4 separate regions of the Homo sapiens genome follow, and all the other regions are reported to be linked to region 1. The links are microRNA targets in miRTarBase. Many come from high-throughput screens and were not tested one by one. Region 1 holds a microRNA gene; each other region holds the end of a gene's coding sequence.
Evidence for each region. Region 1 holds the annotated microRNA hsa-miR-199a-5p (CCCAGUGUUCAGACUACCUGUUC, at 1,755-1,777, opposite strand). A microRNA usually pairs through its seed, bases 2 to 8, with sites in the 3' UTR of a target mRNA and lowers its output. Matches are read on the target gene's strand: a 7mer-m8 pairs with bases 2 to 8, a 7mer-A1 pairs with bases 2 to 7 and ends in A, and an 8mer does both.

Region 2: miRTarBase lists TBC1D21 as a target of hsa-miR-199a-5p. Seed matches in the 3' UTR shown: 7mer-A1 at 274-280.
Region 3: the mRNA of ZNF844 is a reported target of hsa-miR-199a-5p. Seed matches in the 3' UTR shown: 8mer at 2,472-2,479, 8mer at 2,388-2,395, 8mer at 2,304-2,311, 8mer at 2,136-2,143, 7mer-m8 at 2,053-2,059 and 7mer-m8 at 1,331-1,337.
Region 4: miRTarBase lists PSMD9 as a target of hsa-miR-199a-5p. The part of its 3' UTR that is shown has no 7-base or 8-base seed match.

The regions. Positions count from the first base shown.
Region 1 is chr1:172,142,838-172,145,917 of GRCh38, forward strand. MIR199A2 (microRNA 199a-2) reads right to left here and starts at 1,807; the gene lies at 1,698-1,807. All of the region lies in intron 14 of DNM3 (dynamin 3), which reads left to right. DNM3OS (DNM3 opposite strand/antisense RNA) reads right to left here and starts at 1,998. Exons shown (of 4, transcript NR_103486.1): 1 at 1,817-1,998; 2 at 1,528-1,600.
Region 2 is chr15:73,888,886-73,891,965 of GRCh38, forward strand. TBC1D21 (TBC1 domain family member 21) reads left to right here. Exons shown (of 11, transcript NM_153356.3): 11 at 184-329. The coding sequence ends at 216. Among named protein-coding and RNA genes, the nearest start is that of TBC1D21, 17 kb to the left of the region's middle.
Region 3 is chr19:12,076,593-12,079,672 of GRCh38, reverse strand. ZNF844 (zinc finger protein 844) reads right to left here. Exons shown (of 4, transcript NM_001136501.3): 4 at 1-3,080. The coding sequence ends at 2,552. Among named protein-coding and RNA genes, the nearest start is that of ZNF844, 13 kb to the right of the region's middle.
Region 4 is chr12:121,915,719-121,918,798 of GRCh38, forward strand. It overlaps PSMD9 (proteasome 26S subunit, non-ATPase 9), which reads left to right. Exons shown (of 6, transcript NM_002813.7): 5 at 138-226; 6 at 566-2,579. The coding sequence ends at 593. It overlaps CFAP251 (cilia and flagella associated protein 251), which reads left to right and starts at 2,874. Exons shown (of 22, transcript NM_144668.6): 1 at 2,874-2,977. RefSeq lists a silencer at 3,003-3,080.

The DNA of each region.
Region 1 (3,080 bases):
TTTCTTGAAAAAATGAGCTCCTCTAAGTTACTTTTTTTAGTTTTCTTATGTAAAAGAAACTATATAGATTTTTAACATCTCATTTGTTCTACTAAAAATAATTAATATGGAACTCTCCAAGTCACAATAGAAAATGAAAGGATAACTTTACTATATCATCTAAGTGAAAGTAGCTAAATTTCTCCTTGCTGTTTATATTTTAACTAATAATCATGAATATATGAGAATACTTAATGTTTTCTTTATACACATTTTGGGGTGATCAGAAGGGTAATTTTTAAAGTAAGTTGTTTTGACAAAAGAAAACTTAGGGAATCTTTTATAATAAAATATTTTGCTAAAGAGAACTTGAGTCAATTTTTGAATTGTTGCAAAATGTATAACTTAGAAAAGAATTTGTTCAGGAACCACTGTAACTTTAAAGGAGGACAAAAGAGATTATGTTTATTTTTCACAAACCCTGTAGAAGAGATGTTTTCATTATATAGAATTGTTTCGGAATAGAAATTAATGGGGGTTAAGAAAATTAGGGATGAGGCAATAACATTTTTCCAGAACTTTCTTTAAGGGGCCGACCTCTAAAGTTCAGCACAGATCACATTGCAATCCAGACTTGCTCTATTATTTTCTCTATTAGGATTTCATTCAGCTTGAGGGTTTTCTTCCCTCCCACCTTCCTCCCCCTCTCCCACCCTCTTTCACCTCCAGGACAGCTGGAAACTGACCAAAGAAAACTTCTGCCTTCGTTTACAAATTCCTTTTTTATCAGTGGGTTTCTAGACAAAGTGCCTTATTTTAAATGCTCAGAGAAGTGGAAGCATTGTAAGCTATAGGCAAGAGGGCTCAGCTGAGCAGCAATTATTAACCACTCTTTGATTTAAAAAAAATGTAAAACAGATATTTACAGGGGTATCTAAAGATAGAGGTTTTTATTCCCTGATTTACTCAGTTGCTGACTCAATAAGTTGTGGGTCGGTGCTCTTCTCTGGGCAAATCCCATCTGCATTGTCTGGTAGGCAAGACTTGGCAGGTTCTTCTTTTATTGTTAGGTACTATTATTCCTGTTGTTTATATTACAGAAGGAAATCTTCAGAAAAGCACTATCCATATAGCATTTAAAAACCAGCAAGTATTCTTTACTTTGGGGAAAAATGACTTCAGTCCTGGGATGTTAAAAGTTATACATACAGCCTTCATCCATATAAGTTTTTAAATCTTTGAATTATTATTAAACAATTCAAAAGTAGCCTCATTAAACTATTCTTAAGTGTCTGGAATGAGTTTTTTCATATTTCATTTTGAAGTGGGAAAACCTTTAAGAAAACACTTGAATTATCAATCTTCAGAAATAAAAAAAAAAAAAACAGTAAATCGCTATATACCACACACTTTTGCTCTTTTAAAATTAAATACATCTCTACCCATCACACATGTACCTCTGTTTCCCTTGCATGTTAACACAAATCATGGGCTCCCCACCTAGGTTCCCTTGGTCACAGACCAGGTGAGCAGTCAAGAAGGCCTTACCCGCTGGTCTTCCCTTCGGCAGTCTTTTCTCAGCAGTGTCCCCGAGGGCTTCTTGGTCCCTAGTGTGCAAAACCTGTGAAGAAAAACACTGGATATGAGATTCAAAAAAGGAGCAAACAAATGTCTTCTCCTTGGAAACAGCCCATTTTGTCCCCAGCGGTCCATGGCGTTGCTCTCCCTTGCCCAGTCTAACCAATGTGCAGACTACTGTACAACGGCATTGTCCTGAACAGGTAGTCTGAACACTGGGGCGACGGAGCAGGATCTCCAGAAGCTTCCTTCTATGTACTTAAAATCCTCTCCCGGTCCTCAGGAAAAGCCTCCCTTCCTGCACCAGGGGTTGCATTCAGCTTTCCCCCCTGAATTCTGCTGCGCTGACTGAGACACACTCAAGGGCTGTGATTTCCAGTCTTGACGTGGCACATTTGCTGCAGACTGGGGAACTGGCAATGAATTTAGGACCAGGAAAAGGGGGAGGGCTGGGCTGGAGAGTCCATATATGGGATGATGTCACCCTGGGGAGGTTTGGGTATGCGCTGTGCCGCTGGAGAGACCGCTAGAATCGCCTGCTCTCAGACATGGGTCTGTGCATAAAATGGTACCAGATGTTTTAGTGTAACGTTAAGCAGTCATTTCATCTTCAGGCCAGATTTTTTTCCTCAACTGGGCAGGAAGTGGGCCCCAGTATGGAAAAGCTGTAAAAAAAAAAGAGTCAAGATGTACAGTTCGGCTGTGGCCAACTGAAAGTGAGTTAGTGTAGAAGTACAAATTTACTGTCTGACCCAGGCTAGAGAAGTAATTTGAAGATAGAGGGTAGATGAAATAGTAAACAGAAAGTTGAACACTGGAAGGCAGAGCTCATTTGGAAACCTTTTTGAGCTTTCCTGTGGCACTTTATTTTCTGGTATTTCACTCGTCAAAAAGGGCAGATAAGTTTCTGTCTGTCTGTCTGTCTGTCTGTCTCTCTCTCTCTCTCTCTCTCCCCCTCTTCCCCTCTCCCTCCCTCTCTCTCCCTCCCTCCCTCCTTCCCTCCCGCTCTCTCTCTCTTTCTCTCCTTCTCTCTCTCCCTCCTTCTCCTGTCTGTTGAATCTGTCAGCAGCTTGCAGGCTGCTCTAGACTTGAACAGTAATTATAGCAACTTCCTGAAAGTGAAGCCCCCATGAAAAGTCTGGAGAAATGTTCTTTGTCATGGCCTCTACATGAGTAATTAGTTCCACATGTGGCCTTCCTAGTTTCCCTCAGCTATTTTGGCTGGGTCTCTGAATGCTGTGCTATAGTTTGACCTAAAGAAACGTTACAGTTTTTGTTTGAAGCATCCACTACGAAACAACGACTCAGGTCTTCTAACAAATCGCCTCTGGTAGATCCATGCTGTTAGGTATAGCATTGTTTTTCACTTGTAATTCCTGATTCTGTTTTGATACTTTTGTTTTGTTTTCATGGTATTCTGTGGCTTAGTTTTATCTCTGGTTAACTAAATCTGTTGAAATTTGCCAAGTACCGCTTGACCAAAGGTTATAAGATATCAGCCCACTGGCATCTACTTTTCTTTC
Region 2 (3,080 bases), not on the chromosome of region 1:
GTAGCTCCTTCCTCCCTGAGCAGGCTGTACTACTTGAGAGCAGGGCCCTCATCCCCCATTCCCTGTGTCCATCCCAGTGGGTCTGGGCACCCAGAGGCTCAGGAGAATGTCGCTGCTTAGAAGAACCGAAGAATGAAAGGGACAGACCAATGTCTGTGCACCTCCCACCTGCCTCCTCCCTAGGTTCCTCAGACATTAAAGGATTTCTTCCTCTGAGGACACCAAAGCCCGCAGTGGACTGATGCCTTCGATGGGCAGGATGAAGGCCAGGGGCACTGGAGTGAGGGAGTAGATAAAACAGCTGCAATATAAACAGTCCTCTGGAATAATGGTTTGTGGTGGATGCTATGTCTTTGACCTTAGGGGCTGGGACGCACATGAGGGCTGAGACAGGGTCGTACGATAGGAAGAGAGGCTGGCTGGCTGAGAGACACATTCTGAGACTAGGGAGGGTGCTTGCTGGAAGAGACTGGGTCAGTGGCTCCTCCTTGATGGAGGGTTTTCCAAGGCTGCGGTGGATCCATATCTGGATACAAATGGTTAGAGTAGAACCAGCTCTGAAAGGCTTCCAGACCCCTGTGGAGGACAAAACTGAGCACATTTAATAAGGATTAGTTCATCTGGACTTAGGTCCTGAGAGGAAGGCTGGTCCTGGGGCTCTGCCCCCACCCCCACTGCTCCCCTGAGTCCTGTCACATCAATCACACAATTAAGTCATTTTTTCCAGAGATTTCCTGCTAGTCTGTGGAAGGGGCTGGCCTGGAAGAACTATCTGATGAGCAGGCAATTCCCTTCCTGGTTTCAAAGCCTCCCTCATAATTGTGCCTTCATTTATCAGCCTGCAAATGTGTCCTCAAGCTACATTTTATTTTCCAGTCTTGATCAATCTTTCTTGAGAATGCACTCTTTGCCCTTGGCCAGGCAGTCAGTTGCTCTGTGAGGAAAAGGTGCATCACACCTGCTCCCCCAGGCTGTGCCACAGCCCTGAGCCCCTGTCCAGCCTGCCCCATGCTCTAGCTGGCCCCTCTGAGGGAAGACATGTAGATGGGCCAGAAAGGCTGAAACTGCAGAAGGGTTGGGGCTGGCTGGGTGCCCCCAGAGCTGCTCAGCAACACACATACATACACACATACACACACACACGAATGCACACACATACACACTGCCCTGCCCAGTGACTACAAGTTTTCAGGAGGGCTGACATTACACATGGGCAGGAGGGATCCCTTGCTTTTGCTGTGAACTGGTCCTTAGAGGTAAGGCATGGCCATCCCTCTCACTCTTCAGCCAACTGTCCCTCCCTCTGCTCCCATCCTGGCACTCTTAGTGACCATCACTCCAAAGCCATTATGTCCCCAATGAGTGCTTGGTCTCCTTCCCCTCAGGCGACAGTCTCCCATCCAGGACCAGCTCTGAGTCTCTTAGCTGCTGTATCTTTGCTGGAAGGTTGAGGGGGAATGCTGAAGAATGAGGGCCTGTCCCCCCAGCAACACCTTCTCTGCATGGCTAAAGAGCTCATGTTTGCTGGGCAGGGAGGCACATGGGTCAATTCATATACTACACTTCTCCTTTGCTTTTATGTTCCTAAGGCAGTTTATTTAAATAAGTGTTCCCGCATGAAAGACAGTTCTCCAAGGATGAAACTGTGTTTGCATTTTGCCAGAGAGGCAGAGAACAAGAGTAAAAGACATCTTGCTGAGCTAGTTTTGGCCTTGGGAAGAGAACAATCAATAGAAACATCAGATGAACATTTTCTAATGCTTCTTTTAGACTGGTGACTTCAGATGGCCGATTATTTTTGGTTGGGACCTACACACAATGCCAAACATCTATTTCAAAACAAACATTTAAGAACTCATCTTCTAGACCACTTGCTGTCAAATCTGTTGTTAAAAGCACTGGAGCCCCTTTATTACACAGTCCTTCCCAGGAGCCCAGCGGATGAAGTTTGGGTGCAGATCCCAGAGCCCTCTCCCCCGACCACCCCTCTCAAGCCCCCCTCCTTGAACCTCACATCATTTCCTGTGTTATCTGCAAGGAGCCTCTTGTCTACTAGGGTGCATATTTGAAAACCTGTTAGGTCTTAAGGACGAGGTGGATTCAATCTTGACACCAAATTGATCCAGATTCAGATAAATCCCAGGTGATGGAGTGATGAAAGTAACAATCTTGGAAGAGTGGAGCTTCTCTCAGCTCATCTGCAGTACTCCCAGCCCAGCAGACTGTAGATTAGGATCTTCCCACCATGCTGCTATGCAGGTCCTTAAAAATAACACTGGGCTGTATAATTCATTCATTTATTCCCCCTTCTCTGGCTCACTTAGTTTATCATTTATACAGCCCAGTGTTGTTTTTCTCTAGTAGGGTCCATTCTGGAGATAGAACTACAGGAAGCATTGAAATCCTAGAGCCTAAGTTTGTGTTATGACAGTCTAGTTTATTTCAGCATGCATTTATTCAGTACTGTCTTAGACCATTTGGACTGCTCTAATGATGGCAGTGGCAGCCCATCTGGAGCAGCCACTGCCATGATGCCAGCTGCAGTGGGGGAGGCGCAGTGAGGGCTGCATGCTCCATGGAGCCAGTGGGAGCCAGAAACAGGCAGGAGCCCCGCCCCCTTCCAAGTTGGAGGGGTGGGAGCCCCACCCTCCCTGGCACAGCTGCAGCCACCCTGCCATGGCTGTGGACCCAGGCATCTCTGCACTCTTGGGGGCCCTTGAAACCCCCATGCCCTCACAGGCTCAGAACTGCCTGCTCCCACTGCCTGGCCTCTCCCCACTCCTGGTGCCCACTCTGATTTCGGAGCAAAGCTGTGGCTGAGACCAGGTGCTGTCACAACCCGGCCAGGTGTGCTCACACCTGGGGCAGCACTTACACACCAGCCCCATGCCTTCTTGGCCCCCCTCTGGACTTTGGGCACCGACAAGCATGGAAGAGAGGCTGAGGGGGTGGGTGCTAAGGATGGCTCGGCATGGGCCTTCAGGCACCCCTCATCATGAACAGCCTGGGCACCGTGGATGGCAGGTTAATGACAGCAGGAGGCAGGCAGATCCTGGGTGGAAAGGGGCAGATCCTGGTGA
Region 3 (3,080 bases), not on the chromosome of region 1:
GTGCCGGCCCCTTGCTTTTTTTTTCAGATGGAGTCTCACTCTGCTGGGGTACAGTGGCGTAATCTCGGGTCACTGCAACATCCAGCTCCTGGGTTCAAGTGATTCTCCTGCCTCAGCCTCCTGAGTAGCTGGGACTACAGGCACGCGCCACCATGCCTGGCTAATTTTTGTATTTTTGGTAGAGACAGGGTTTCACTATGTTGCCCAGGCTGGTATTGAACTCCTGACCTCAAGTGATCCACCTGCCTTAGCCTCTGGAAGTGCTGGAATTACAGGTAAGCTACCGTGCACAGCAATCAATTTCTTATAATAGGATTTCTCTCATATATTAATAGTATGAATTGCTTCATTTCAGGAATGAAGGCTTTTCACATTCCCTTCATTTACAGGGTTTCTCTTCAGCGAGTTCTTTCATGGCTACAAAAGGATCTGATACAATGGAATGCTTTTCCATATTGCTTGCATTCAGAGGGTCTCTCTTTATTGTGCATCCTTTTATGTCTTTGAAAATGAATGGGGAGAAGGCCGGGTGCAGTGGCTCATGCCTGTATGCACAGCACTTTGGGAGGCTGAGGCAGGTGGATCACCTGAGGTCAGGAGTTCGAGACGAACCTGGCCAACATAGTGAAGCCCCGTCTCTACTAAAAATACAAAAATTAGCTGGGCGTGGTGGCGGTCACCTGTAATCCCAGCTACTTGGGAGGCTGGGGCAGGAGAATCACTTGAACCCAGGAGGTGGAGGTGGCAGTGAACAGAGATGGAACCACTGTTCTCAGCCTCAGCGACAGAGCAAGACTCCGTCTCAAAAAAAAAGAAATGAACGGGGAGAGAGGCCTATCTGTCATGTGCAATACCATGTGGGTTTCAATGCCACTCAGATCAGAAAATGCTTTCCCACGCAGCTTACATTCATAGGGTTTTCCTCTAGTGTAAGTCCTTTTGTGAATTATACCCTCTTTGAAGACAGGTATGCCACTGTGGGATATGGCACAAAGTCACTCTGAAGAACATGAGATAACTTTTGGTATTATGAATGAACAAAAAATTAGGACCAAGATAAATGTTCTAAGTATATAAGCATGAAAATTAAAATTTACATGAGGAAAAAGATGCCTGGGATTTTGTCCACTTGGTAATATTGACTCACAATGTCCAAAAAATAATGTGGTAACATAAACTTGATCTAATGCATGATGGCACTGAGATATTTTATTATGGCTTCTCAATTAATTAAATAGAGAATAACAGCTGGGTGCAGTGGCTCATGCCTGTCATCCCAGCACTTTGGGAGGCTAAGGCAGGTGGATCACTTCAGGTCAGGAGTTCAAGACCAGTGTGGCCAATAGGGTGAGACCTCATCTCTACTAAAAATATAAAAATTAGCCAAGTGTGGTGGTGCACACCTGTAATCCTAGGAATCTTTTTCCTCAGGAGCCTGAGGCAGGAGAATTGCTTGAACCCGGAGGCGAGATCATGCCACTGCACTCCAGCCTGGGCAACAGAACAAGACTCATCTCAAACAACAACAAAAAATAGAGAATAACGGCCGGGCACGGTGGCTCATACCTGTAATCCCAGCACTTTGGGAGACTGAGGCGGGCAGATCACGAGGTCAGGAGATTGAGACCATCCTGGCTAACACGATGAAACTCCGTCTCTACTAAAAAATACAAAAAATCAGCCGGGTGTGGTGGCAGGCACCTGTAGTCCCAGCTACTCAGGAGACTGAGGCAGGAGAATGGCGTGAACCCAGGAGGTGGAGCTTGCAGTGAGCTGAGATCACGCCACTGCACTCCAGCCTGGGTGACAGAGCGAGACTCTGTCTCAAAAAGAAAAAAAAAATACAGAATAACATGTTAGTATGCAGCTGCTATAAACATTTAATTGTTTACATTCATTGTCTGTATTTGAAGGTTCTTAGCAAATCTGAAGGCTTTCCCATATTGCTTATATTCATAGGGTTGCTCTACAGTGTGAGTCCTTTCATGCACCAGAAGTTGTGAGACAGATCTGTAGGCTTTCCCACATTGCTTACATTCATAGGGTTTCTCGCCAGTGTGAATCTTTCTATGCATCTGAAGTTGAGTGGCAGATCTGAAGGCTTTACCACACTGCTTACATTCATAGGGTTTCTCTCCAGTGTGAGTCCTTTCATGATATCGAAGGCTACCGGAAGAAATGAAGGCTTTCCCACACTGCTTACATTCATAGTGTTTCTCTCTGGTGTGGGTCTTTTCATGATACTGAAATGCAGTAGAAGACATGAAGGCTTTACCACACTGCTTACACTCATACTGTTTCTCTCCAGTGTGAGTCCTTTCATGGTACTGAATGGAACTGAAAGAAATAAAGGCTTTTCCACATTGCTTACACTCATAGGGTTTCTCTCCAGTGTGAGTCCTTTCATGTCTACGAATGGCAGTGGAAGAAATGAAGGCTTTACCACACTGCTTACACTCATAGGGTTTCTCTCCAGTGTGAATCCTTTTATGACACTGAAAGGAACCAGAAGAAGTGAAGGCTTTGCCACATTCCTTGCATTCATACGGTTTCACTCCAGTGTGAGCCCTTTTATGTCTACGAAAGGAACCAGGCAAACTGAATGCTTTCCCACAATCCTTACATTAATATGGTTTCTCTCCAGTGTGCATCCTTTTGTGTATACGCAAAGAAGAAAAATAATTGAACGCTTTTCCGCATTCCTTACATTCATAGGGTTTCTCTCCAGGGTGTGTTCTTGCATGTACTCGAAGGATCTTGGCAGATATGAATGCTTTGTCACACTCTTTACATTCATAGGCATTCTGTCCTCTGTGCATTGTTGCATGTATTTGAAAGGAAGAGAAATTGTTGAATGCTTTTCCATATTCCTTATAGGGTTTCTCTCCAGGGTGTGTCTTTTCATGAATTTGAAGGTTTCTGACAGATCCAAAGGTTTTTTCACATTGTTTAGATTCATACAGTTGCTTTCCAGTGTGAGTCCTTTCATGCATTTGAAGGTGTGAGGCAGATGTGAAGGCTTTCCCACATTGCTTACACTCATAGGGTTTCTCTCCAGTGTGAGTCCTTTCATGATATCG
Region 4 (3,080 bases), not on the chromosome of region 1:
TCTCGCCAACCACAGGATTATGCTGCAAATGTAAATCTTTACCAATTTGATAGGCAAAAAATGGGATCTCAGCATTTTAGCCTGCATCTCTGAGTACTAACGAGGCTGAACACGAAATGAGCTTATTTTCTTTTCAGAAGCCCCTGAATGTGACAGTGATCCGCAGGGGGGAAAAACACCAGCTTAGACTTGTTCCAACACGCTGGGCAGGAAAAGGACTGCTGGGGTAAAGTATCTGTTTCTGTTCATTCTCACTGGGGCATCATTTGAGTGTTTGTTAAACATGAAGCTGGAGGGGAAGGCTGGGGAGACATTGGGGAATAATGGGAATCCCCAGTTTGCATGGAAACTGCAGATAAATCCTCGTGGTAGGAACGAGACTACAGCTCTAGAAGCAGAGGGAGCCCCAGAGTCTCTCCTGGGAGTCTCTCCAGTTCATTCATGCACTAGGCATTTGCTTTAAAAGAATGAAAGAACATTGGTGAAAAGGTCAGAAGGGCTCAGCCTCTGACCTTCCTGAAGGGAGCCTCCAAACTTACGCCATTCCTTTTCTTCTTTCTTCCAGCTGCAACATTATTCCTCTGCAAAGATGATTGTCCCTGGGGAACAGTAACAGGAAAGCATCTTCCCTTGCCCTGGACTTGGGTCTAGGGATTTCCAACTTGTCTTCTCTCCCTGAAGCATAAGGATCTGGAAGAGGCTTGTAACCTGAACTTCTGTGTGGTGGCAGTACTGTGGCCCACCAGTGTAATCTCCCTGGATTAAGGCATTCTTAAAAACTTAGGCTTGGCCTCTTTCACAAATTAGGCCACGGCCCTAAATAGGAATTCCCTGGATTGTGGGCAAGTGGGCGGAAGTTATTCTGGCAGGTACTGGTGTGATTATTATTATTATTTTTAATAAAGAGTTTTACAGTGCTGATATGACCCTGTTGTCACCCCAGCTGAATTTCTTATGACCCTCCCAAACCAAAGCTCAGATGGGGTCAGAAGAGCTTCATAGAAAGTTGGGCAAAACAGGCTAGCAATTGCAAAGTCAGGCTTTGACCAACATATTTCTTTGCACTGAGGCCTTGCTGCTGTGGATACGGAAATGGTTAAGTACTGTGCTTCCTCAGCAGCTGGGCTGTCAGGGCCATAGTAGCTCCCTTTGGAGAACAGGGAAAGCCTGGAGGCTTCCCAGGTGGCCCAGCGTGGTGTCCTGTCAGCTTCCTCTTTAGGAACCCACCAGAGGGCAGCAAGCTCCTTTCACTTCGCTAGTAAGAACCCCTCCGTTTTTGTGTGTTTTTGTTTTTGTTTTCTGGAGACAAGGTCTTGCTTTGTCACCCAGGCTGGAGTGCAGTGTCGTGATCAAGGTTCACTGAAGCCTTGACGCTGTGGGCACTGCCTCAGCCGCCCAAGTATCTGGGACCACAGGCGTGCACCACCATGCATAGCTAATTTATTTTTTGTAGAGACAGGGTCTCCCTGTGTTGACCAGGTTGGTCTCGAACTCCTGGGCTCAAGCAGTCCTCCTGCCTTGGCCTCCTAAAGTGCTGGGATCACAGGCGTGAGCCACTGCGCCCAGCCCACTGCTAGTTTGACTTTTTATAATTGAACCTCCTGGCTATGCCCTGAGATCAGCGCTATTTTGTAAACCGCTGAGGTATGGATAGGAACGAGTAGATCAGACCTCTTGAAAATGCTTATTCTTCCTCCCTTTTATTTTTTGTCTCTTTTAAGATGGTAAAATGGTTCTCAGGGATTCCTGCCAATACTTTGAATTATTTTTTCCTCTCCATGGTATCAGTGTTCATTTCCCCAGTTCTTGCACACCGCTTTCTGTTTTGGCAGTTCTGCCAGGCAAGCCCTGTGTTCCTTGGGACTGGTTTTGCTGTGGTTGGATACAGATACCAGCTTGCCTTGATGGGATTGGTATTGCTGTGTGCTTCCAGCCACAGGTTCTCACACTCAATTCCAAAGCCTTCCTATTGGGCGAATTCCCTCAAACTCTATTTGACCTGACAGCCATACGTATTCCCCTCTGGTAGCCACAGACATGCTGTGTTTACCAATGTTTGCTGTTTAAATTGCATGTTCTAATTCCACGTATTTTCCAGTCTCTTTTATAAAGTCTCAGACTATAATAAACACAGCTTGCCCAGTTTATCCTTTCTTTTTTATTTTAAGATGTATGCATATTAATCAATTTACCATCACTGGGGCATGGCAGTGTGGGCGGGGAGAATTATTCACATTCTCCTAAAATGACAGCAGCAGAGAGCCTTCTGCCTCAGTGGCTCTGGCTGGTTTCCTGCAGGGGTCCCAGTGGAAACCCGTGTGGCCACCTGTTGCCGTCTTCCATGAGATGTTAGTGGAGAGCCACTTTGACGTGGAATGATCCTAATAGATATAGCCAGACCGGTTTTGCGGAAACGCTTTGTGCTGAGAACCGCAAGCTGGTGCACCCTGTGTCATATCTGCCCCCAGCCAGCTGGAATTGTCTGCAACACGCGGTGCCCGGTGAGGAGGCAGGCAGGACGGTTGTGTGCTGCATCCATGAGACCTGGAAATTCAGTTTGCTTTTGGAAAAGAGCATTGTATCCGAGTTCATACTTCTCCACCCCATCTTGCCAAGGTTGCGGAAAGTAAAAATTGGCAGTATTGGCCGCTGCAGCTTCTTAGGGGACGGGACCATGTGAAAAGGTGGGATCGTGCGAGCGGAGGAAGGACAGAAAAGCGAGGAAAGTCTATGCCGCCAGCGACCGGCAGGAGGCACGTCGGGCACGCTCGTCACCGTTTCCTGGCACGTGACCACCGCCCTGCCCTGTCGCTTTAGGGCCTGTCGCTTCCGGCGGTGGCGGTTGCCATGGGGACGGAGCTTGGGTGGCAACCAGAACTAGGGAGCTGGTGGAGAAGGTGGCGGCCGCTGGAAGGAGGCCCGGGAGGTGGCTGAGGGGTCCAGGCGGCGGGACGACTCTGGCCTTTTGAAGACCGGGGTGGGTGCTCTCTGTAAGTCCGGGGCGGAGGCCACGCGGCCCTGGCGAGGGGGCCCCCGACCTGGCGGGGTCTGGTGCCCCTTGGGGGGCGCTCACCCGACCT